Linked DNA regions of Homo sapiens. The protein of the gene in region 2 purifies or fractionates together with the protein of the main gene of each other region. This does not show direct contact. Each region holds a gene or a part of one and is shown on either strand. Other genes may lie near its edges.

Evidence for each region.
Region 1: the proteins of TSPAN2 (region 2) and HSDL1 purify together in Homo sapiens (co-immunoprecipitation; 3 studies listed by BioGRID and IntAct, with this or other methods). This does not show direct contact.
Region 3: the proteins of TSPAN2 (region 2) and DAGLB purify together in Homo sapiens (affinity purification with mass spectrometry; 2 studies listed by BioGRID and IntAct, with this or other methods). This does not show direct contact.
Region 4: the proteins of TSPAN2 (region 2) and PTGFRN purify together in Homo sapiens (co-immunoprecipitation; 3 studies listed by BioGRID and IntAct, with this or other methods). This does not show direct contact.
Region 5: the proteins of TSPAN2 (region 2) and MTCH1 purify together in Homo sapiens (affinity purification with mass spectrometry; 2 studies listed by BioGRID and IntAct, with this or other methods). This does not show direct contact.
Region 6: the proteins of TSPAN2 (region 2) and FAM241A purify together in Homo sapiens (affinity purification with mass spectrometry; 2 studies listed by BioGRID and IntAct, with this or other methods). This does not show direct contact.
Region 7: the proteins of TSPAN2 (region 2) and SNX14 purify together in Homo sapiens (co-immunoprecipitation; 3 studies listed by BioGRID and IntAct, with this or other methods). This does not show direct contact.

Annotation. Positions count from the first base shown.
Region 1 is NC_000016.10:84,135,178-84,138,677, forward strand, and holds part of HSDL1 (inactive hydroxysteroid dehydrogenase-like protein 1), read right to left. Parts: intron 429-3,500; 5' UTR 367-428; intron 1-366.
Region 2 is NC_000001.11:115,051,504-115,055,003, forward strand, and holds part of TSPAN2 (tetraspanin-2), read right to left. Parts: intron 1,960-3,500; coding exon 1,876-1,959; intron 1-1,875. UniProt on the Homo sapiens protein: May play a role in signalling in oligodendrocytes in the early stages of their terminal differentiation into myelin-forming glia and may also function in stabilizing the mature sheath.
Region 3 is NC_000007.14:6,427,455-6,430,954, forward strand, and holds part of DAGLB (diacylglycerol lipase-beta), read right to left. Parts: intron 3,154-3,500; coding exon 3,026-3,153; intron 1-3,025.
Region 4 is NC_000001.11:116,912,916-116,916,415, forward strand, and holds part of PTGFRN (prostaglandin F2 receptor negative regulator precursor), read left to right. Parts: intron 1-3,500. UniProt on the Homo sapiens protein: Inhibits the binding of prostaglandin F2-alpha (PGF2-alpha) to its specific FP receptor, by decreasing the receptor number rather than the affinity constant. Functional coupling with the prostaglandin F2-alpha receptor seems to occur.
Region 5 is NC_000006.12:36,976,197-36,979,696, forward strand, and holds part of MTCH1 (mitochondrial carrier homolog 1), read right to left. Parts: intron 2,416-3,500; coding exon 2,309-2,415; intron 1,960-2,308; coding exon 1,882-1,959; intron 1,589-1,881; exon of another isoform or gene 1,496-1,588; coding exon 1,438-1,495; intron 1,055-1,437; coding exon 1,003-1,054; intron 1-1,002.
Region 6 is NC_000004.12:112,186,954-112,190,453, reverse strand, and holds part of FAM241A (uncharacterized protein FAM241A), read right to left. Parts: 3' UTR 1-3,500.
Region 7 is NC_000006.12:85,591,059-85,595,097, reverse strand, and holds the start of SNX14 (sorting nexin-14), read left to right. Parts: upstream 1-1,239; 5' UTR 1,240-1,379; coding exon 1,380-1,519; intron 1,520-1,997; exon of another isoform or gene 1,998-4,039. UniProt on the Homo sapiens protein: Plays a role in maintaining normal neuronal excitability and synaptic transmission. May be involved in several stages of intracellular trafficking. Required for autophagosome clearance, possibly by mediating the fusion of lysosomes with autophagosomes.

The DNA.
Region 1 (3,500 bases), on a different chromosome or scaffold from region 2:
AGCCAAGATCGCGCCACTGCACTCCAGCCTGGACGACAGAGGGAGACTCCGTCTCAAAAAAGAAAAAAGAAAAAAAAAAAAAGAAAGAAAAAACAGATACTACATATCAAGATCAATGGGTTGTAGCCAAAGCAGTATTTGTGGGGAAATGAGTTGCTCCAAGCCTATAGAGTAAGGCTCTCGCTACAAAAAGGAGGTCAGGCATGCCTCATGGAGGAACCCACACAGATGGAAGCTTCCTCCTTAAGCCCGATTTTTTTCAAGAATCTGAACCTTTTTGAAGTAAATGTCTAGCAAAAGGCGCCTGACCACAAAGGGGGCCCCAGTTTTTCTGCTGTGGTCGTTCCCTGCCCTGGGGTCTCTTACCTTCTCTCTGCCAGTTCTGGGCCGTCAGCAGTATGTGGCTCCGTCCTTCTCTTAAGGCCAATCTGTGAATAAAACCAACAAGAAACAAATGCCTTTCCTCTTCCTCATAGTTCAGCTGGGAAAACTTTACATTAAAGTAACATCCAAGTGCTCAAAAATTAAGAAAACACAACAATTCTTACGCCATGAATCTCTGTAGAGGCAGCAAACCATGTACTAGGCACCAAGTACCCTCCTCTCAGAATAAGAAAAGCGCCTGGCGTCTGCTGGGGGCACAGTCCATGCGTCCTCAGGCACAGCTGGAGGGTGCCCCCTTTTCCTATGCCTTTTTTCCTAGGGAACATTTCATCAAATGGGACAAAAGCCCATTCCAATCCCAGGAGCCCTTGGGGAAACACCGCCCAGGCACCAGGCCGGCATCGGGGAAGAGAGCAGCCACAGCTGTCCTCGGTGCCTTTTTCTGCCTGGTGCCTGTCTGGGTTTCACCTGGGCCTCCCACTGCCTCACTCTGCACACCCCTTCTTCAGCTCCACCTGCAGCGTTCCCTGGAACATCCACATTGCCACGGGCTGCCCTGGCTTCTCTTTCCAAATTCCTGGCAGGGATTCTGGCTCGCCCACCTTAGTTCAGGTGCCCACCACCTGTCTAATCTCCTGGCAGGGTGGCAGGGAGGAAGGCGTCCTACAGTGTTTGGGGGCAGCCCCCCTAGGCTGTGAGTGGGTCAGATGCTTTAAGGAGGAAATGAAAGGAAACCCCTGGTCCACATTTTCCCTCTCCTCCACCACACACACTGCATTGCAACTGTTCTGTCTCTGACCACCCCAGCAGGCTATAGTCCTCCAGGGCAGAGGCCAGATTCTACTCCTCTCTGTTTCTCCAGCACCTTCCACAATTCCTGGCACAAAGAAGCTCAACACTACCAAGTCTCTGGCTGCAGCTCACAGGCAGTCTTCCTGTCCAGCGCTCAGCCCTCAGCTCAGGAGCGGACCACCCACAAATTCCTTTGATCCTTTACAGAAAGAAAAGCTTGTGTGCTAAACCCACCAGGGACCTCCCACTCAGGCCAGCAGAGGAGATGCACCCACTGCAGAGGTGAGTACAGGAACCTGGGGCTGAGGGGCTTCAAGCCCATCATGGCCCAGCTTCTCAACGCCCCCACTAGACACCCCTCACCTCTTGTCAGGGGAGCGCCATCGTGTGCAAGTACCTTAAACGTGTGTTAATATTATTGTTGCTATGTATATTTTAAAAATCACAGAGCATCAGGGGGGCTGATGGCATTCAAGGTCTGGTCCTCAGCCTTGATGGATAGAAACCCAAGTTCTTCATTCCTTAGAGGCAGCTCAAGACAAAGAAATCTGACTCACATCCACAAAACCCACAGAAGACTGATACATTCAAATGCCAAGTTAGGAATGGATAGTGAACAACACAGCGAAGAGGCCTAAACACACACGGTCACTGGTCCTACAGTCTCTCGAGATCTACATGGAAAACCAAACTTCTAGAACAGCAATGAAAAATACAAAGTGTCAGAGACTGAGGACACCATCATGAATAAACCAGGACTCCGTGCCACCCGGTATACACAGAAGTCAGAGAAAGATAAACGGAGCAACTGCAACATGAGGTGGCAAGGGCGCCACTGGGGTGAAATGGGTCTTGAAGTGTGAGCAGAATTTCTGGGCAGAGAGGAGGGAAGGGACCTCCCTGGCCCGGGCCCATGGAGAAAGGCTCGGCACCGTCAAGGGTCTGGCCTACTCGGGAAACATTAGGAAGTCCCCCGCATGCACAGCACAGGCTGTGCTGTCCTGTGTGACGCCCCATGTGTGCAGGCGCACAGGCGTGAAGGAGACTGGGAGAGGCAGACTGGAGATGCCTTCACGCCAGACTGGAGTGCATGGACCTCCTCCTTGAGCACCAAGGGAGGGAGCTGGTGGGGCTTGTTTAGGAAGGTAACGCAGCAGGGGAGGAGGGGGGCTCCTGAGCCCTGGTTACTCAGCTGGGGATGAAGGAGGGCCACACGGAGAGCCAAGGCTCTGTGGCCTCTGCTGCTCCTCAGCCTTGCCAGACACTTCACACATTCACTCACACCCTGATGGGCCAAAGATGTTAGAGAACTGGAAATTAAAACTCATTCCCTGCTCTCAATCTTCTTCCCCACCCTTCTGTACATGATGGAAAATAACATTTTTCTCATGACAAAAGAAATCAGTACTTTCCCCAGAGCCACCAAATTTCAAAAGCTCATAGCCTCTCACTGAAACTTTCAAAGGAATTTATCACACATTTAAGCCTAGAAGTCCACTTAGGCATATGTAGATAACAAGCCTCGTCAAAGTTACTTTAGGTATCTGACTAGTTACTGTTTTGTGGCTTGATTAGCGAAAGCTATTAACCTGTGCTACGGTCTGAGCGTTCCGCCCCACTCCCTGATTCTTGTCTTGAATCTTAACCCCCCAGGTGATGGTTTAGAAGGGAGGGCCTTTGGGAGGCGATCAGATAATGAGGGCTCCACCACCTTGATCTTGGACCATTCAGCCTCCCAAACTGCGAAAAGTAAGTGTTTGCTGTTTCCAAGCCACCCAGTTCATGGTATTTTGTTATAGCAGCTCAAAACCAACTAAGGCAGCCTGCAACCTAGAGAAACCCATGATGTGGAAAGCAATACTAAAACACAGTAAAATTCTGATTCATGTACAATCTACCTGCAAGAACTTATTCTAAAGCTTTATTTTCTTAAACAGAGAGTAGAATGGTGGTTGCTAGAGGTGGGGTCATGGGTGGGAAGTTTTGGTCAAAGGGGTATAAACTTTCAAATATAAAATGCATACGTCTGGAGAGCTAATGTACAGTACAGTGACCATAGTGAGCAATACCAAATTGTAGGCTTAAAATCTGCTTAGAGGGTAGATCTCAAGTGTTCTCACCATAAAGAAATAAAAAAGTAACTGAGGTGATGAATGTGTTAACTAATTTGGTTGTGGTGATCATTTCACAAAGTATACATATATCAAATCATGTTGTACACCTTAAATTTATATAATTTTATTTGTCAATTATACTTCGATGAAGTTGGAAAAATATAAAATAATTTAAAAAAATTTTTAAGCTTTGTTTTCTCATCTCTGCAG
Region 2 (3,500 bases):
AATAGAAGAATGCCAAAGAGTCTTCTTGTCCGCTATTATTTCCCCTACAATTTTGTAGAGCCCATGGAACCCTATCTGTGGGCACCATTCCATAAACTACTGTCAATGCTTATTTTAAAAAATGGGTACTATAACTTTCTGGTTCTCTCCTCAATTCCATCCTAAGTCAGACTAGGATCTGTAAGTGCTAAATTCAATAAGATATGAATGATCAGTTGTTTTGAAAAGGGAGGGGCAGAAGCAGGTAAGGGCATGGCCAGGAACAGGATTTCAAGCTTCTGGATGACAGGACTCAGTACCAGTGTGTAGCACGGGCGACACCCAATGCACTTTTAGTTAGCTGATTACATTGTGCAACTCTCACTTTACAGAGAAAAGAACTAACGAAGAAACCTGGGGGTGCCGACTCAAGATAGGCTCACTATGGGCATTTCCCCTTTATCATTGCCATAAGGTTGGATGTAATCCCTACCCATCCTGGTTTCAGTGAGACTCCTTCAGTCTCAGCCTACTGCCGACACGAGTCAGGGGTGAATGCTTCTAGGCTGCTCATTTGCTGAGATTGTGAAACTCTCCATTATGCAGCACACGCTCAGACCTGCCTCAGGACTGTCCTTTGGGGAGCTGCAGAACTGCAGCCAGGCTATCCCCAGAGCAGGTGGGGAGGACCTGAGAAATGTCCCTTGATTTGGAGGGCCTCAGCAGAGTATTTCCAGCCACTTCTCCACCCCTCTGTGCTCTAAATACAGAAAAGGGGAAGGCGCTTGTGTGTCCCCTGATAACTGCAAATTCACTGATTTCCTCACAATTCCCACAGCCCTTGCCTTAGTTTAGGCCATGAATTAATCTACATAGAGGGCTAGAGACTAAGTGCCATCTTAGCATTAGCTATTATCATCCAACCCCTGGACAATGGAAATCATCCTTTAACCCGCCTTCCAAATCCAATCTTGCCTCCCTCCAACCTTTCCTCTATCCTCTACCACAGGTTCTTCCAACTCTTGGTGACTCCCCTTTCCTTAAGGGTGAAGCCCACCCTTTCAAAGGGGCATACAAAGATCTCAATGATGTAGATCGAATACTCTCTCCATTACCACCTCTCGCAACTCCTGCCATACCTGTCCGCTGCTATCCATTCTTCCCACACACTCTTCTTTTGTACTTTAGAAGTACAGAGCCACCTGGTGGTGGTCTGGATGCACTACGCTTAATACCATCTATGCCATTGCCTTTGCCTGGTAGATTATGCAGAGAGCTGGCATTTGTTGAGTGTTATATGTCCCAGACACTTTATTTATATTAATTTGTAATACTACTGTATATGTAGTATCCCATTTAATTTTCACGGCAATCCTATAAGGTTTATATATTAACAGACGAGGAAATTGAGGTATAGAAAAATTAAGAAATTTTCCTGCGATCTCAGAGCTTGCAAATGGTGGAGCCTAGAGTTAAATCCAAACCATGTGATGCCAGAGCTCGCCCTATTAATCTCTATGCTCTGCTGCCTCTTCAAATCGTAGGTGAGAGAGATTAACCTGATATGTTGCATTGAATTTGTAACAGTAGAAAGAGACCCAGAACTGAAAATCATTTATCTAGGTTATGGATAGTAGCCTTAAAACGGGAAGTTAATAACAATGACACACTCAAGGTCATAATGAGTTAAAGTTGAAATTTCTATTATATTTTAGAGGACAAACTATTAATATATTTATGAGCTTTGTTCTTAGAAGATGTAATACATTGTGAACAAAGGTCTTTTTTCTTTATGAGAATTCTCTCTTAAGATACTATCACACTTGAAAAGAAATAAGATGCAAAGTTTCAAGGCTTTTTAGAGGGCAAAAAGGGTAAGTTCTAGAACTTTCTCACCGTCAGACCTGCAATTCCAATACCGACAATTCCAATGAGCTGGAGCTTAACACTGATTATGGTCTCAATTTCATCGATGCAATTCTGTTTTGAGGAAAAAAAGTCGGGAATAAAAACTGATTGTATGTGTCAGTCATTATCCTGATCCTATCCTTTCCATCTCTACAGTTCATTCTGTGAGAGTTAATCCATGCCAGCTTCTACTCATGTTTCAACAATTCATCTTTGATAACATCATCCTAATAAGCTTAATGCAAAAATGCAGTTTGGGGAAAAAAATAGAAGCCTCTCCTTTGGGTGAGATTTTCATGTTTAGGCCAGTGGCTTCTTCGGAGCCCTGAAATATAACTGGAGGAAGCTATTTGTCTGGTTCCAAGGAATCTAAAAATTTGGAGCCACTTCTTACTTGTAGCAAATAAGTAAAATACCCTTAAAACAATAACTCTTTGTTTTCATATTGTCATTTACAGTTTAAAATACTTTCTATGTCTTTGACCCAATTTACTATGCAAAGTAGGCATGACCTATTAAGAAACTAAAAAGTCTTAACAGGTTCAAGTTAAACAAAGGAAAGCCAAGAATTAGAAAAGCCAAGTCTTGGAGCTAGAGGACCATTCTCTCCTGTGGTGGCTGGGCTGGGCTGTGCTGGGTGAGTTCCTATCCTTTCATCTGTGCCCATAAGACACCTGTGCAGCATAGATTCAAAGGGCCTTCATGGATGTGGGGAAACTTAGACAGAAAGCCAAATAGATCACCTGTAACTATTATTAGTTTCTCCAACTTCAAACACTCCTATTTGGAGTGCTCTTAAGTAGAGGGATGCTCTCAATCCAACTGTACCCTCAGGTTGTTCAGATCTGTTCACTTGTCACTGGTTGGTTCCTTTGATACCATCTGAGCTATATAAAACCCTTACTTCTCTCTTCGTATTTCCTATCACACTTCATTCATTCAACAAACATTTCTTGAGCATCTACCTTGCATTAGTCACTGGAAGAGGGGTGGTAGATGCAGAGACAATAGGATATGGTTTCTCCTGCTTTCTGGGAATTCACAGTTTAGAGGACACAGATCCACAAGAGATACCTATAATGCATTCTGACAAAAGTTTGAAAACTACTCTTCTAAGGAGTGGCTCCCTTACTTAGTGGAAAAAATGAGAGTCAACCTATAGCAATTCTTTCACTCTTCCTCTCCTTCTCCTATACACTTAGATGCTCCCTTCCTTCAGTGCCAGGCATTGCTGTAGGTAGCAAGCACACTCCTGACTCCTTTTTCTCTGATCAGAGCCAAAGAGGTGCCCTTCTCTGTTGAAAGTTAACCTCATGGCTGGGCGCGGTGGCTCAAGCCTGTAATCCCAGCACTTGGGAGGCCGAGATGCGTGGATCACCTAAGGTCAGGAGATCGAGACCAGCCTGGCCAACATGGTGAAACCCCGTCTCTACTGAAAATAAAAAAATTAGCCGGGCATGGTGGCACCTACCTGTAATCCCAGCTACTAGCGGGGCTGAGGCAGGAGGATCACTTGAACCTGGGAGGTGGAGGTTGCAGTGAGCCGAGATCATGCCACTACACTCCAGCCTGGGCAACAGAGTGAGACTCTGTCTCAAAATAAATAAATAAAT
Region 3 (3,500 bases), on a different chromosome or scaffold from region 2:
CAAAGCAAAACTGTCTCTAAAAAGAAATTTATTAATTTAAAACATTTTTAAAAATTATCTGGGTCTGGCAGTGCATGCCTGTAGTCCCAGCTACTTGGGAGGCTGAGGTGAGAGAACCCCGTCTCTTAAAAGACAAACAAAAAAAAGATATTAGTAAAATCTCATGATCTTTAAAATAAATACATAGGCGTGGTGGCTTACACCTGTAATCCCAGGACTTTGGGAGACCGAGGCAGGTGAATCACTTGAGCCCAGGAGGTTGAGGGTATGGTGTTACAGTAAGCCGTGATGATACCACTATACTCTAGCCTGGGCAACAGTCCCAAAAAAAGAAAAAGCAAAATCCAGAGGTTAGGAAGTGCTCAGAACATGATGGGGTCATATGAAAAGAACACTGGAGCCAGTCTGCAGGACAAAATCTGGAACATTTTGAGCATCAAATAAACACTGTACTTAATACAAAATAAACAGTCATAATTACAACCCACTGAATAATTTAAGAATCTATAAATCCATATTGACAGTAAGATGTAGGGATAAAAAGCTCTTTTTTATAGGAGAATGACAATTAATGTAGAAGAAATGATGAATTTAGAAAAATCACAATTTTGGCCAGGTGCGGTGGCTCATGCCTGTAATCCAACCACTTTGGGAGGCCAAGGCGAGTGGATCACCTGAGGTCAGGAGTTCGACCAGCCTGGCCAACACAGCGAAAACCTGTCTCTATTAAAATTACAAAAAACTAGCCGAGTATGGTGGTGCAGGCCTGTAATCCCAGCTACTCGGGAGGCTGAGGCAGGAGAATCACTTGAACCTGGGAGATGGAGGTTGCAGTGAGCCAGGATCCTGAGACTCTGTCTCAAAAAAAAAAAAAAAAAAAAGAAAGAAAGAAAGAAAAAGAAAAATCATGATTTTGCCACCATCCTGGTAATAAGTGATTCAGACAAGAATCAATGGATGCTGTACTGCCAGATGAGAATTCAGAGAGGGATAGGACATTTACTTACTTGTTTTTTGTTTTGTTTTGGTTTCTTTTTTTTTTTTCTTTTTGAGACAGAATCTTGCTCTGTTGCTTAGGCTGCAGGGCAATGGTGTGATCTCCACTCACTGCAACCTCCAACTCCCTGGTTCAAGCGATTCTCCTGCCTCAACCTCCCGAGTAGCTGTGATTACAGGTGTGTGCAACCATGTCCAGCTAATTTCTGTATTTTTAGTAGAGACGGGGTGTCACCGTGTTGGTCAGGATGGTCTTGAACTCCTGACCTCAGGTGATCAGCCCGCCTTGGCCTCCCAAAGTGCTGGGATTATAGGCATGAGCCACTGCACCTGGTGGGATATAGACATATATATTTATTTAATTTATTTTTTAAGACAGCGTCTTGCTCTGTCACTCAGGCTGGAGTACAGTGGTGCAACCCCAGCTCACTGCAACCTCAGCCTCCTGGGCTCAAGTGTTTCTCCTGCCTCAGCCTCCCAAGCACCTGGGACTACAGGTACACACTGTTACACCCAGCTAATTTTTATATTTTTAGTGAGATGGAGTTTTGCCAGGTTGCCCAGGCTGGTCTCAAACTCCTGAGCTCAAGTGATCCGCTGGCCTCGACCTCCCAAAATGCTGGGATTACAGGTCTGAGCCACCACGCCCGGCCTGGGACAAGATATTTAAATGGTCTCAAGGCTGGCAGTCACCACCTCAGCCAAGCAATCAATGTTAATATAACCAGAAATGGGACAAACTGGCATCATGTATCCCCTGATATGATACACTAGGAAGGATGGTTGTCATGGACCATTCCCGCCAAAAATGCAAAACATAAATCTAATCATGGGGAAACCATCACACAAATGCAAATTGAAGGCCCTTCTACAAAATATCTGCACTGTCCTCTTCAAAATGTCAATATCATGAAAGGAAAGAACGGCTGAGAAACTTAAAACTTGAAGGAGACCAAAGAGACACAGCAACTAGATGTAACGCATCATCCTGGATTGGAGAAAAAAATTGCTAAAAAGGGTATTACTGGGGCTGGGCACAGTGGCTCACACCTTGTAATCCCAGAACTCTGGGAGGCTGAGGCAGGCAGATCACTTGAGGTCAGGAGTTTGAGACCAGCCCGGTCAACATGGGGAAATCCTGTCTCTACTAAACATACAAAAATTACCTGAGACCGGGCCTGGTGGCTGACGCCTGTAATCTCAGTACTTTGGGAGGGTGAGGCAGGTGAACCACAAGGTCAGGAGTTCCAGACCAGCCTGGCCAACATAGTGAAACCCCGTCTCTACTAAAAATAGAAAATTAGCCGGGTGTGGCCGGGCGTGGTGGCTCATGTTTGTAATCCCAGCACTTTGGGAGGCCGAGGCAGACGGATCACGAGGTCAGGAGATCGAGACCATCCTGGCTAACACGGTGAAACCCCATCTCTACTAAAAATACAAAAAATTAGCCAGCAGTGGTGGCGGGCGCCTGTAGTCCCAGTTACTCGGGAGGCTGAGGCAGGAGAATGGCGTGAACCAGGGAGGCGGAGCTTGCAGTGAGCCGAGATTGTGCCACTGCACTCCAGCCTGGGCAACAGAGTGAAACTCCATCTCAAAAAATGAAAATTAGCCGGGCATGGTGGCGGGCACCTGTAATTCCAACTACTCAGGAGGCTGAGCCAGTAGCACCGCTTGAGCCTGGGAGACGGAGGTTGTGGTGAGCTGAGATCACGCCACTGCACTCCAGCCTGGGCAGCAAGGGTGAAACTCTGTCTCAAAAAGAGAAAAATAAAATGGTTCGGGGAAAAAAAATACATGTGCATATATATATATATATATATATATATATATATGCAGGGGGGAGGGAGGGAGGGAGAGAGAGAGAGAGAGAGATACAGCGCATGTGACCAGATGAGTCACAGCTGGTGACTCTAGGTAAAGGATTCATGGGAGTTCTTTGCACTGTTCTTTCAAATTTTTGAAATATCTCAAAATAGCTTTTTTTTTTAAGGGAAATATGGCTATGGAGGCTCAGACTGTGCCAACCCACCAGTCACCACCAATCCTGCACAGCCCCGTGAGGGGGTTTCTGTAGATGTAGAGGGGCCACCCATAGGCCGCTGCTGCAAACTGCATGTAATGATGGCAGTTTTCTAATTCTGCATCCAGATCAGCTTCCTACAAGAGAAGGACAAAAACTACTGTTTATTAAGGGAACTCCTGACACAGAGGATCAACACACTGAGACCTGAAACCTGAACTCATTCCTGACTCTTCCTGCTCCTTCGTTGAATAGAACTCTCAGACGCCCACAGGCAAAACTGCTCCTTCAATAAGGATGACATGGACTCCTCATTTTTTTTTTTTTTTAGAGTCTCGCTCTGTCACCAGGCTGGAGTGCAGTGGCACAATGTCAGCTCACTGCTACCTCCGCCTCCCAGGTTCAAGCAATTCCCCTGCCTCAGCCTCTCAAGTCGTTGAGACTACAGGCACCCGCCACCACACCCGGCTAATTTTTGTATTTT
Region 4 (3,500 bases), 1.9 Mb from region 2:
CCTAAGCCTACCTACCATGATCACACCAGAACCCACCCAGCCACATAGAGCAGGTTTCACATCCATTGCCTATGTCTGACCTGTCTTGCCCATCCACTCAATGTGGCATTTCTTGAGTGGCCACTCTGTGTGCAACTGTGTGTTCAATACTGGGAGTCCCAGACAAATGACAAAGACACAGCATCTCCCTGAGCGGCTGGTGGGTGTGAGTAGACAGAGAATAAAATAGCTAACCACAGGACTGAATGAAATACCTGACATGGAAACCAAGTGTGGGAAACAAGGAAGGGGATGATTAATTTTGACTTGGGGGTTGGGGCTGGTTTTGCTGAAGAAGTGACATTTGAGTTGAGCCTTGAGGATAATTAGAATTTTGAAAGAAAGGATAGAAGAGCATTCTGGGCTCTGGGGAAAAGCCTAAAGTGTGGATGAGTGAAAGTACATGGCTCATTGAGAAATGGCACGTAAGTTCCCTGTAGCTGGAGCTGGGAGGAGGAGGAAATAATGGGGGTGCAATTATTTGGGGGAGGAGGAAATAATGGGGGAGGAAAGGTGGGTTTGGGATAGATCCTGTAGGTTTTGCATGCTGTGCTAAGGAGTCTGGACTGGGAGGGGTAGATTTGTTGGTGCTCTGGGTGCTGCCAGCCAGTCTGTGCCCTGTCATCAGAGCATATATTTCCTTCATTGTATGTAATTGTTCCCTACTCTGATTGTTTCCCCTGGGGGCAGGGGCCACGTTGATTTTGTTCACTACAATGTCCCTATTACGAATAGGATATATAACTCATACTGGTTGTTTGATACATATTGGCTGACTGAATACTTACATATGTCATTTTATCTGTGGGAATGGGTAGCCATTAAAAGTTTGTAGGGCGAGATTAACAGGACAGGGTAATGTGTTGAGGAGGATAAACCCTCAACTAGTGCAACATAAATTGGAGAGTAGAAGGCATGGAGATTGTAGGGTGGGATTAACACATTCTCTTTATGTCTTTATTTTTGCAAATCTATTGAGATACTTTTTTAAGTGTCAAAAGCATTACATCTGTATTTTAAAATTCAAATGATATAAAAGGACTTTGTATTAATCAGGTAGGCTAAACTGCTCTAACAAACTCAAAGCATAGTGGTTCAGACAATAGATGTGTCTTATATAACAATGCGAGGGAGATGCTTCAGAGGAAAGGGTTGGGTGGGAACCCTGCTTTACACAGTCATTCTGGCTCCCCAGCTGGTGGCAGTTCTGCTGTCTTCAACTCACAGTTTCTAAGATCACTTTGGTAGTCGTCATCACCATTCCAGCCCCTACAAAGGAGGAAAGAGCGTAGAGTAGAATATTTGGAGTCTTTGTGGGTCAGACTTGAAAGTGGCACACATCATTTCTGCACACGTTCTATTGGAGAGACTTTGGGCCCATGCCACACTAGCTGTAAGGAAAGCTGGGAAGCCATGTGCCAGCTACTATGGAAGAAGGGAAAGACAGATTTTGAGGGAACAGCTAACAGTCTCTGTGTTACTTACAAAGGATATAAGGTCAAAAGAAAAATCTGGGCTAAACAGGTCAGCTCATGCCTGCAATCCCAGCACTTTGGGAGGCCAAGGTGGGAGGATTGCTTGAGATCAGGAGATCGAGACCGGCCTGTGCAACATAGTGAGACCCCCATCTCTACTAAAAAATAAGAAAAGTTAGCCGGGTATGGTGGCATGTGCCTGTGGTTCCAGCTACTTGGGAGGCTGAGTGGGGAGGATCACTTGAGTCTGGGAGGTCAAGGCTGTAGGGGACCGTGATCGCACCACTGCACTCCAGCTTGGGTAACAAAGCGAGACCCTGTCTCAAAAAAAAAAAAGGAAAAAAATGTGTCCACCCTCCTGCCCAGGCACAGCCACTCCTGCCTAACGTGTGTGTGTCTCTGCATACTGAGTATTTTGTTTTTTTTTCCTCATAGCTTCTGTACAAGGCTCTGCACCTAATAGGCACAGACTAATAATAGCTACTATTTCTCGATTGCATATCAAGCGTCAGGCTCTGACGTACATTCTGGTATTTATTCCTCACAACAATACTTTGAGAAAGTCACTATTTTGTCTTTATTACAGATAAGGAAACTGATGCCCAGAAAAGTTAGTTAACTTGTCTAGAGACATACAGATTCTTCCTAGCAGACCTAGGATCTGATCTCAGGACTCCATTCTGTCTCTGCTAAGGAAAAGTTTACTAATGTTCGCTAAACCTTATGCTGCGTATTGCTTGAGATTAGCTTAGGTGAAGAAAGATGATAGTGGTTTGAAAGTGAAAGTGCATTTAAAAATAGGAGGATCCAGGGTTAGTGCAGCCCAGGTACACTTCCTGAAGGGAAGGGCAGTGCCAGCATGCACCTCAGAGGTGTGGCATCTCTGCAACCCTAGCAGGTGGCCATGCCGGCTCTGAGGACGGGCCGAAATGCAACTGCCTCTGGAAAGCACTGAAGGAGGAGGAAGGCCAGTGGGAGGAACCCTAGTGAATCCATCCAGCTTTAACAGTCTTTGAAGTGCTGTGGCCTTCAGAGATTCCTTGGCACTTATTTTAGCCTTGTTAACAGAATTCCTGTATCTGCCAAGCTGATTAATGCCTGCCCTGGCTATAATTATTCTTATTAGCCTGCTGAATAGGAACTCTAGTTGTCAGTGATCATTCCTTACAAGGCAGCAGGCTAGTCGGCATTTATGTGGCTGTTTTGTTTTAGCGATGAGCTGCTGAGCTGATTTTCCCCCCGTAGATTGAATGTACATTTTCATATTGGCACTGCGTCTGGCAGTTAAATAAGGTGTGTGCTTGTCTGTCGATGTGTGTCTGCGTCTCACTTTATCAAATGAAGTTGGAAGGATGCTGTCCAGGCAGTTCATAGCTGTTTTGTTTAATTGCATTGGTTTCTTAAAGGCAGGGTTGCAAGGGTCATTTGACTCTGCTTTGGGAAAATAACTTGAACTGGCAAAAATTCTTCATAATTTATCTTCTGGAAAAGGTGAAGTGCTGCAGTTGGCACAGTCAGTGGTTTTTTCGATCTTGGACTATTTCTCCCCACACCAACTGTAGTCTTTGGGAAGCAACAGAATTAGACCCAGAAGTTAACACTGTCGTGTCCCAGCAATATGCGTTTCCAGTAGGCTGGAGATCATGGCTCTGTGCATTCGCTTGTGTTCTTTGAAGGCTGATTTCTCCACAATACTCTGTATTGTGTCACTAAGCAGCATGATTCAAGTTTAAGTAAAATGTTCTGGGACCTTAATTGCATCCTGTTTCACACCTTTACAAGCAGCTGGAATGTGAAAATATTTACCTCACTTGGGATATTTCATAGGAGTGGAGAAGAACCCGTGGCTACTGTTGCTCTGTCTAGGATGAATTTGGCTTAGAATAGCGAAGAGTGGAATTGTGCCTAAGGGTTCCGGGCACATTTCAGAGTGGGTGCTACCTTGGAATCCTAATGAAATAGAGATAGTGGGCAGACAGATGAGTT
Region 5 (3,500 bases), on a different chromosome or scaffold from region 2:
GAGGCACTGGAACCAGCCTAGGAGAAGACATCTGGCACTCCTCAGCAGGGAGCCGGGGACTCATGCCCTGGCCACTGCACCCTGTTAGAGATGAGAGGACAAGCTGGATGAGAGGACAGGCTGTGGGTTCTTGGGTGTGAAATGCCAAGGAAGCTCAATAACAACCTACTAACAGAGGGAGCCAGTGGAAGGCAAAGCCCTGGGTAGCCCCGGTCCCAGATCATCCCAGCCCTGCCAGGCCCGGCCCCACCACTCAGAACAGTGGTGGCCAGATTATACCCTTCTGGTCCCAACTACCAACCTCATAATCAGTCTAGGGGAATGGGCCAATTTCCCATTAATGACCCCAAAATGAGGCACCATGGCAGCTGAGCTTCCTGGGATGGTGGCCCCGCAGGACAGCTGCAAAAAACACCGACCCCAGGAAATGAGAATCTTAAGAGAGGAAGGGCAACCCAGGTGTGTCCTTCACACATGCCTCCAAGACCCACCTCCGTGTCAACACATATGCCCCTGGCACCTACCCAGGGCTGCACGCAGCAGATCTAGGTGAGGGTCTGGTACACAATGGAAGGGATGAGCCCCAAGCCCATGGGGTGGATGGCTTCTTCATAGGGGATAAAAAGAGCTATCAGCCTATGAGGGCCGGAAAAATCGTTAGAGCATTACTTCGGGAGTCCAAAAGGAGACCCCAGCTCAGTCCTAAGTGGCAGAATCAGCTCTGGGGCCAGAAATCCTAATCCAAGCTGACTACAATCCCACTCACCCCTCTGCAAAGGCATCTAGGCTCATCTAGGGCTGCCCTTGATAAGAGATGACGAAGAGAAAATGACCCTGGACAGACTATTGAAGCCACTGCCACATTCCTCAGAAGCCAGGCAGCAGGCTGAACTCACACAGCACTAGGGCAGAAAAGGTGCAGCAACCAATCCCAGCACGGCCTGCCCTGGCCGACTCTGAAAGGGTAACAGGGCCACTCTGCCAGTCCCAAGAGTTACCCACCTGTACTTGGCCTCCCGTCCCACAAACTGGACCATGCAGCGCATTGAGATGACTGAGGAAAAAAAAGAAAACACACACAGGTGATGTGGTGGGCCACACTTCATAATGCTCCAGCCACCGGGTGCCAGGTGCAGAGTGGCCACTGAACAACGTGGCCTATTCAGAGAGCAGGAGAGGAAGAGGGCCTTTCGGATTCCCTGTTACACCCCATGACCACAGCATGCCATTTCTACTGCCTGGGAAGAGCCCCACCTCCCTTTGGAAAGAATTCCAATCTCTCCTCAGTGAGGTGGGTTCCAGTAGAATACCCCCAACCCCACTACCACTTCCCAACAGGTCTACGGCTGTCTATGTACAGTCCACGAGGGGGCGCCCCTCACCCCACGCCCCCGACGCCAGCTTAGATACAGTCTCGGGGGAAGGGGGGTGGCTTACCATGCAGGGGGTGGGCCAACATGCGGGACACACACTGCATCATCATCTCGTAGGAGGTCTGGAAGAGAGCATGGGGTGGGGACTCGCCACCCTCGGCCTGTCTCTGGAACTGGCCCTCGAGGGGAGCTACAAGTGCTCAGGAGGGAGAAACCTGTCCCAGGGACTGCACATGGGGTCGGTCTGCCAAGGATGGCTCCACCTGTTGCCCACTCCCCAGTCCCCCACCCAGGAGTGCTGTCGGGTCCCAGGCTAGGCCCAACAATGGCTGAGAAGGCTTTCCGGGGTTCCCGGCACATCCAGGCCAGGGCTTCTTCCCTTACCATCCCACCCATGCATACACAAGGACCCAACTCTTCGACTTGTCAATGACCCGCCCAACTTGGGGGTGAGAAATCATCAGGCTCCCCTCCACGCACCTCTCCCTCTCCAACTCTCAACACCCACCTCCTTCACAACTTTCTTCAGGGAAGTCTTCATATCATCCTTGTTGGAAACCTGCTCAATCTCATCTGGAGGGAAAACCTGAAACAGAGAAGGGAAAGAACCAAGTTCAGCTACGCCTCTTCCATGGAACTCTTCGGGGACTTGGGCGGCAGGAACCAGCTCCAAATATTTCCTCTGCAGTGTCTATTGGCTGGGCCCACCTCAGGTAACCTCCAGGTCTGGAGCTTGGGGGGAAAAGAAAGCCACTATCTGGTGTCACAGCTGTGGGAAAGCAGAACTGTGGGGTGGGAGCTCCCCCATGGGGCTGGAGTGAAGCCCCCAATGGTCTGGGAAGGAGGAGGCAAGACCAGGGTAACTGGCTGCTGCAGGGGTGGCTGGGAGTATGAGGAAACCTCGGGCGACTGTTCCTGGCTTTGTGTGGGCTCACCTTCTTCATGCTACCCCGAGTCACAGTAGAGAGGGCGTTGGACATCAGCCGGGGACTCAGGCCTCGGAACAGCCCTATCTTACCATCCACTTGCACGATGTACTTGGCTGTAAGAAAACAGAGGTGGCAGAGGAGTCACACCCAGTTCAGGGGCACCCACTCCTGGGTCACACACACCCAGACCAGGCTCGGCTTGTCCTTCAGGTAACTGCTGACTACAGGCACAGAAGGTAACATCTGTCCAGGACCTGGAAGCAGTCAGGCCCTAACCCCCAAATGTCTTCTAGCCCATTTCTTTTAGTAAAAGCCTCAAAATGTATTTCTGACAAACAAGTTCATATATTTTCTTCCTTCCTTCCCTCCCTCCCTCCTTTTTTTTTTTTTTTTTTTTTTTGCTTTAAAAACTTTACTTGGCAAACTCAGCCATGATTTCTCAACTCAGCAACTTAAATGCTGCAACACAGAAAACAATTCTGTTACTTAAAAATTACATTTTTCTTGAGGAAAAGAAAATAGGAAAAACAGAGAAACTGCCCGCAGGGAATGATGAAGTCTTCAACCTAAAGGAGGGAAAAAGGAAAAGAAAGGGCTCCCAGAAGACAGGCTCAAGAACGCCCCCTGCACATGCCACGGCCAGGGCAGTCTCCACCCTGTCACTGTGCTACACCCAGGATACCACCTGGCACCAGATGGCATTGATTAGTCAAGGGAAAAACAAGTCTATGGAGAAGTAACTAAAACAGGAGCACCAATGAACAATTCCATAGAATAAACTTAAATGTTATGGAAGCTAGACCCTACCTGTGTGAGTTAGTGTTTCTTTCACTAGGGTCTGTCTTTCTAAGGATACGATTCATTGTTTTCTATCAACATTTTAAACATGTTTTAAATGGCAGGGTGGTATTTTTATAAACCTGTGCATCTGGAAGCTAGCAGAACATTCTCTCAGACAGCATGCTCCCCCTGTTAGACCATGACTTTAGCTCTCTGGCACCGCGCAGAGGCAGGAAGAAGCAAATATGCCTTTTGCTCCTCCGCAGATGTCTGCCAGCCCAGCAATTCAATGTCACAGCTAGCATGGGTTTTTCATGAGGCTGAGAACACCTGTTACCTGTATATGTGATTGCCTGAGATGAGGGTGGGCTGGAAGGAGAGGAGGAGGAGGGGAGGGGATGCTGGGTGACTTGGCAAG
Region 6 (3,500 bases), on a different chromosome or scaffold from region 2:
TCGGCCTCCCAAAGTGCTGTCCCAGCACTTTTATAGGGATGAGCCACCGCGCCTGGCCGTCTTACATTTTTTTTTCTCCCTTCAATTGTAAAGCCATAAATTGGTAATGAAAGCATTTTAAACACCTGAAATTAATAAACATTTGTAAAATAACTATTAAAACAATCTATGAACCACACGAATAGCCTTTGATTGCTCCAAACCTGGCTTTGACTATTTTGAGCTTTCTATATTACAACAGACCTTTACTTATACTGTAATTTTTCCTCTATCATTCTGTAAGTTTTGCCTTTCCTGATTGCCTGGATAGTCTTTAGTGGATTTACAGCTTGGTGACAGCCTAGAGAGATTTTCTGTGGTCAAAACATGATTAAATAGAGATTTGTTGGTCAGAAGATAACCATGAACCATAATACCCACAAGGGAAAGAGCCAGATTCAGTTTTGGGTGGGTCGATGGGGATTTACCTCATATGCTTTCTTTTATTTCACAAAATGTGTTCTGTTCTTTACTTTCGTATCTGTAGGAATAGAAATGGGAATGTGGCCTCTAGGGTGTGCTGATGTATGTTTAACAGCTGGCTTTCAAGGAAAAAAAAAAAAAAAAGATCTGATTTGCAGTGTTTACTAATTTTTTTGGTGTAAATACTCTCACCATGGCCAATTTCAAACTACCAACTTGACAGCACTGAAGGCAGAAAAAATGTTCACAGTTGGCTCTTGTAAGCCAGTGCAAGCTTGCTCCAGCACACTACTGGACTAGGAATGATCTGCCTGTAGCCAGGAATGGGAAAATACCTTGCCCATGACAGCTTAAGGTATGAGAGGACAGAATTCTACAAAATACAGAGTTTTTACTTTAAGAAAAATGGATTTACTCATCTACAGTCTGTTTATTTGTAGACTTCGACCTTTTTCTTTTGAATTACTGGCCATATGAGTATGCATTATGTAATAACCTTAGCATTGTAACTTCTATTTCTTTATTCATAAGCAATAACAGTTTCTAAAACTGGCTTGTATTTGAGATTGAAATGATGAGAATCATTTTCAATCCAATTTTTTTTTTTTTTTTTTTTTTTTTGAGATGGGGTCTCACTCTGTTACCCAGAGTGCTGGAGTGCTCACTGCAAGCTCTGCCTCCCGGGTTCACGCCATTCTCCTGCCTCAGCCTCCTGAGTAGCTGGGACGACAGGCACCTGCCACCAGGCCCGGCTAATTTTTTGTACCTTTAGTAGGGATGGGGTTTCACCATGTTAGCCAGGAAGGTCTCGATCTCCTGACCTTGTGATCCACCCGCCTCAGCCTCCCAAAGTGCTAGGATTACAGGCGTGAGCCACCGCGCCCGGCCCAATCTAATTCTTTATACCATGAACCAAATAAATTACCAGTTTTATTTCAGGATATTAGTATAATCTGCATTCTAATATATTTCATAAAAGAAAATATTTTATTTCCATTACATAGGCAAAGTTTGTTTTTTCCCATATCAAAGCCAAATATTATTTGATGTACTGACCAATAATATATGTAGAAAGAATAACAGCAAAATATCTTATTTCTTTATATAATTTAATATATACCCTATTAACACCAGTGTGCAGATGTACAGTACTGACAGTATACTAAATAGTTAGTATTAAAAATTACTTTAAAAATGTTTTCAACATTAGGTACTGGTGGAACCAGAGCTGTTATTTTGTACATCATATCATTTATGTGTTGCAAAGGAAAAGTAAAATTTCCAGTAGCATTAGAAAAAAATGTACTGATATTTTATGTAGATATACAAAATCTCATGACATCTATTGAAAACCTCACAATTCTATTGTGCACTAATAAAAACACCTTTTCAAACAACTTGCACTTATACTGAGTTCATAAAGGCTACTATAAAAATATTGCAAAAGCAATAAAAACACAATATCGTACAAAGTCTTTTGTTTTTTAAAAGTCAAATTTTAAAAGGACTGTATTTATATAAATGTGCAATACTTTTTAGTGACCCTGACTAACATTTTTGTTTAGGATTATCTGATTTTAGAAAACTAAGTTAAATGTTTTTCCTTATTTTCTGTTTCAGAATGAGAAGACACTAAGAATGCACAGAGGTTTAGAAATAAGATTGGGTAAAAGCTTTATGAAGTGGGATAGCAAGCACTCTACATGTTTTACTTGTTGCCCTACCAAAGATACAAATGCCTGACTGCCCCAATTTCTGAAATTTAACTTGAATTCTAAATCTTAACTACCCCCCTTTCCTTTATAATCTTTGAGATGAAAGTGTAAAGATTTTAGGTTCTCTAACAAAACCCAAAATATCACTAAAGCCATTCTCCATTTTCAAAGAATATTTAAAGAAATGCGTATTTCAATATAAAACCTGAAAATGCTGAATTAAGACACCTTAATAACATGGCTAGCCAATTACTGATGTGACTTTAGCCTTAGAAAAAGATTATCAAAATTGGCTAAGTTCCAAATTTAAGCATTTGGTTTTATACTGTTAATATTGTACCTTTCTGATATAGATATCAAAGAAAAATGATCTGATTTTTTTCCTGAAAACAACAGTAAAATACAAATTTTTTGTGAAAAAATCCATGTCAAGATAGGAAATACATTGTTTCAAAACTCAGAATAAGTGTTATGAAAGAACTATAAAATTATAAATTTCTAAAAAAAAATACACTGAAAATGTCTCTCTAGGAAAAAATATGCAACTTGTTAGATACAAGAAAATATGGCATTACCATAGGGTGCAGTCAACTAGGCTATGAGACTTTAAAAACTCACAAAAAGTAATTAGCACCAAAATTGTCTGAAACTTCAAATGATATATTAAAGTAGGTCTAGGTCCAAATGTTACATTTTAAAAAAGTTATATTTAACCTGGGAGCTTTCCCCAGTAATAATAAATATATTATTTTTGACCTTTAGAAAACGTTCTATCTTTACTGATTTTCATCACAATATTAAGGTAGTGTATGCTAATTATCATTTACCTTAGTTTAGGCTGGGTAGGGACAATTGAAATCCAAATATTTCCCAAATAATATGAGATTATTTGGTGGGGAGTGTGAGTGGGGAGAAGTTTTCTAAGTGAAACTTACTTTTAGCTTGTTTCATACTTTTTCTTCTGAAATGTTTTATTGGAACTCTTTATAAGAACTATATTGCTTGATTTGAATTCCATGTCCTGTTATTTTCCCTGTTCACTTTCTGGTGGTGTTACTTAAGATTTGGCATGGGGATAGAGGTGTATAAAGGAGACAGAGATCACAGTAGTGAAACAAGAGTTTTGAATAAGCTAATGTATATTCAAAATATATATTCAACCCTGTTATGATCAAGAGTTTAGTTTTAAGTGACATCCATGTATAAATTTACTTACAAAACAGCCAGCACATGATTTGAAACAAGGCAAACTTTTTCGGTTGTCAAAAAGTGAAATATATAACTTCTTCAATTACATATATGGCTACCAAATGTCAAACAATT
Region 7 (4,039 bases), on a different chromosome or scaffold from region 2:
CATAGGTTTATCATCAAGGATGGTAATATCAATGGACTTTAGTGGTTAGCAATAATGGAACAGGATGGTACATTCTGATAAAGGATAATAATGCATCATTAAAGATCCATGTTTTTGTAATACGGGAAAATATTCATGAAACTACATACATCATTAAAAAACATTTGTTTCCCCACTTTGAAGGATAAGATCCTAGGAAAGAGAGATGACAGGCACAGGCTCTGTCTTTAGAACGTGTTCAAATTCCGGCTTTGTTAGTTTTATGATCCTAAGTTCCTTTCTGTCTCAGTAATTTGCCTGTATAATGATTGAAACTATAGTACTGTACCTACACCATGGGGTGAATGCATGAAGGTCAAATGAAAGTGCTTAGTGTCTGTACCGCCTAAGTAAATTTTCGCGATAATAGTCTTCCTGCATCTCTCACTGTAGCGGACAATACAGAAAAAAAAATTTAGAAATGTGATGAATTAGTAAAGGGAAAACCCCATGAGACTCTATAAGAGGGATTTTACCTAATCTGCCAACCTGCCTCTTCCAAGCACTCGGATTTTGGTTGGGCTCCCGGAGCCGGCGTGAATTGAGCTCTACCCTTGCCCGTGAGCGCGCAAAAGAGATTTTGTTGGTGGGGTGGCGGCCTGATGAGTTGTAGTCTTTATTCTAGGGCTGTTTTACTCGCCACCCCCCCAGCCCCCAACACACCCCTTTTAAAATACCGACTCAAAGGCGTCCTCCTATCCCCCTCTCCCTTAGGCGTCACGCAAAGCTCGGACCTGCTCCCACCCGGAGCCGAGTGTACGGTGAGGCGCGGAGCGTTGCGGGGTCGGGGAAGCGCTACCACCCGCTCCATCCCTCTGCGGGTTCGTGTCACGAAGACTACAGTTCCCAGCGGGCTCCACGAGCTCCGGTTGCCCCTCAGGCAGCGCCCGGCGGCTACGGGGGTGCTGTAGTTTCTTCCGGGCTCCCTACAACCTTCTTCCCTCTCCTCCGCAATACAGGCAGTTACTGGGTGCTGGGGCTGTCCTTTGATTTCCGGAAATGGCCGGTCGCCAGTGTTGTCAGAGTTTCCACGGAAGACTGCGCGCTACTCCGGCCAGGAGGGCGGAGCGGCGAGACGCTAGAGGCTTTGCGCTGGGTGACGACTTCGGGCACGTTCTACGGCCGTTCCTCTGGTCGGCTGGGGACCGCGGCCGCGCACGCGCGGCGGGGGGCGTGGGGCTGGGCCCAGCCGGACGCGACCTCAGCCTGCGGCGGCTAACTGCCGGTAGGCGTCTGTGTGCGCCGCCAAGTCGGTGGGGCGGGGACGCGAGGTGTGGATGGGGGGTCGCCTTGACCTCTGCCTCAGCCAGTAGCGCAGTCTCGGCCTCGCCGTTACGGAGATGGTGCCCTGGGTGCGGACGATGGGGCAGAAGCTGAAGCAGCGGCTGCGACTGGACGTGGGACGCGAGATCTGCCGCCAGTACCCGCTGTTCTGCTTCCTGCTGCTCTGTCTCAGCGCCGCCTCCCTGCTTCTTAACAGGTAACGCCGCAGCGCGGAGCCTGGGCGGCGGCTTTTCTCCGAAGGTGCAGACGCCCGGCCCGTGCTGCTTAACCGTGCGGAGGCCGCGTAGCTGCGGGACTGGGGACCAGTGGGGAGAGCGAGCTCCGCAGAGGAGCGGCCTCGGGGAGCACGGCGGAGCGTCGAGGCCGGAAGCACAGGCCGGTGGGGTGGGGTTGATTGCCTCCTTTCCCGAGGCTTCGTCTCCTGAGCTACCTTTTTCTCATCCATTTCTCAAAACGAGTTCTTCATCTTCGTTGCTTTTCAAAAGTGAAATCCGTGTGTCGGCTCAAATTGAGACTGTACACAGGCAGTCAAGTCAGCTGACGGAGGAGTGTTCAAGGTCCAGTTCGTAGCCGCAATTTTAGGCAGAATCCGCACACCTGCAGCGCGTTCTTCCATCTCCCCACCTCCCACCCCCTCAGCTTGCAGCTGAAGCTTTTCCCGCAGTATTGTTGAATAAAACAGACGATCATAAAGATTTGTTGGACAGAAATCAGAAAGCAAAGTGGTACCCGTCCCAACATCCTTAGAATTTTTTATTTTTGAGACGGAGTCTCGCTCTGTCACCCAGGCTGGAGTGCAGTGGTGCGGTCTCGGCTCACCGCAAGCTCCTCCTCCCGGGTTCACGCCATTCTCCTGCCTCAGCCTCCCGAGTAGCTGGGGCTACAGGCGCCCGCCACCACGCCACCACGCTACCACGCTAATTTTTTTGTATTTTTTTTTTTTTTTTTTAGTAGAGACGGGGTTTCACCGTTTTAGCCAGGATGGTCTCGATCTCCTGACCTCGTGAGCCGCCTGCCTCGGCCTCCCGAAGTGCTGGGATTACAGGCGTGAGCCACCGCACCCGGCCACATCCCTATAATATTCTTAAGAGGACTTGATGCCACCCTCCCCAAAAAAACCTGAAATATTCCGAAAGGTTAAAATTGATAAATTCAATTGACATTTTGAAATCAGAAGATTCTGCCCCCGAAATAAACTTGTTTTACTTCATTTTACTATTTCAAGAAATTGTTGCGATGCAATAGGTAGTAGAGGAGACTTTTCCATTAAAATTAACACCAGATTTGCTTTTGGTGGAAAGAAATCTGAGATAGTTCTCATTGACAGCATCCGCAAGCTGTTTTCTCTGATGTTTTGAACAGGCAACCATTCTTACTCTTTATCTTAAGGTAGTTGATTCCCAAGGATAGCAACAGGGAGGAATGCGCAAGGAATTTGGTAACTTCATTTTTCTCTGGTGTAACCATTATTTGTGACTATGTTGAAGTTAGATTTCTTCCCTAAAAGTGGCCTTGCTTTCTTGTTGATTCTTGGTTTAAATATTATTGAGCTTAAATAGTAGTTGATGTTTTACTGAGAAGTGTGCTCTGTGATGGTGAGATGTTTGAACTGTAGGAGTGTGGGAGAAGTGGGATCCTTAACAGAGGGAACACTAATTATTATTTGCTTTCTGTCATCTGGAAGGTATTCCAAGCTAGACTAACAGGTTTAGTATGAAAGAAATGTAAGCTTCATATGATTTTTATTTTTATTTTTATTTTTGAGACGGAGTCTCACTCTCTTGCCCAGGCTGGAGTGCAGTGATGCGGTCTCGGCTCACTGCAACAGCCACCTTCCAGGTTCAAGTGATTCTCATGCCTCAGCCTGCAGAATAGCTGGGACTACAGGTGGGCACCACCATGCCCGGCTACTTTTTTTACATTTTTAATAGAGACGGGGGTTTCACCATGTTGGCCAGGCTGGTCTCGAACTCCTGATCTCAAGTGATCCACCTACCTCAGCCTCCCAAAGTGCTGGGATTACAGGCGTGAGCGACTGCACGCAGCCCATATGATTAACTTTTGTCCATGGATTCTTACCTACCTCTTTTGGGAACTGGGTCAGTTTAGGTTTCTAAGGTAGGAGAGCCATCTAGTAGGAGCAGGTTAAACTAGATTTCTGAGGTCATCTACTTATGGTCATAACATTTAGTGTTGTGTGTTATTAAAAAGTCATAGGATGCCATCTGATCTGTATACCATCTAACCTGTACCCTGTATTTCTTTTATGCAGAGAAGGTAGGAAATACAGGTAAATGTTACCTGAGTGGTTGGGTTTATGAGTGAAGCTGTTTTTGCATATGTTTTGGTGTTTTCCATTTGTTACTGCTGTAGTCAGCAAAAGTGATTTTAAACACTAGAACTGTCTTGAATAAAACCATGATTATGTATCCCTTTTCCAGGAAAAATCTTTTGGAAGGTGCCAGATGGTGTATGTAGCATGCTTTTCAGTGTATATGTGTGATTAAAAAAAAAAAAACTTATGTGTGTATTCACGTACACACACACACACACAGATGATAAGAGTATCTCTGAAATGTTGTTATACAAGAAAACATGGGCCCTTCTGAGATGGGGTATACTAGGTACATCTATTCTGAAATAAAAAATAATTTTATATGAAGTTGATCCTTGAACAGTGCAGAGATTAGGGCCACTGACCCCTATGAAGTCAGAA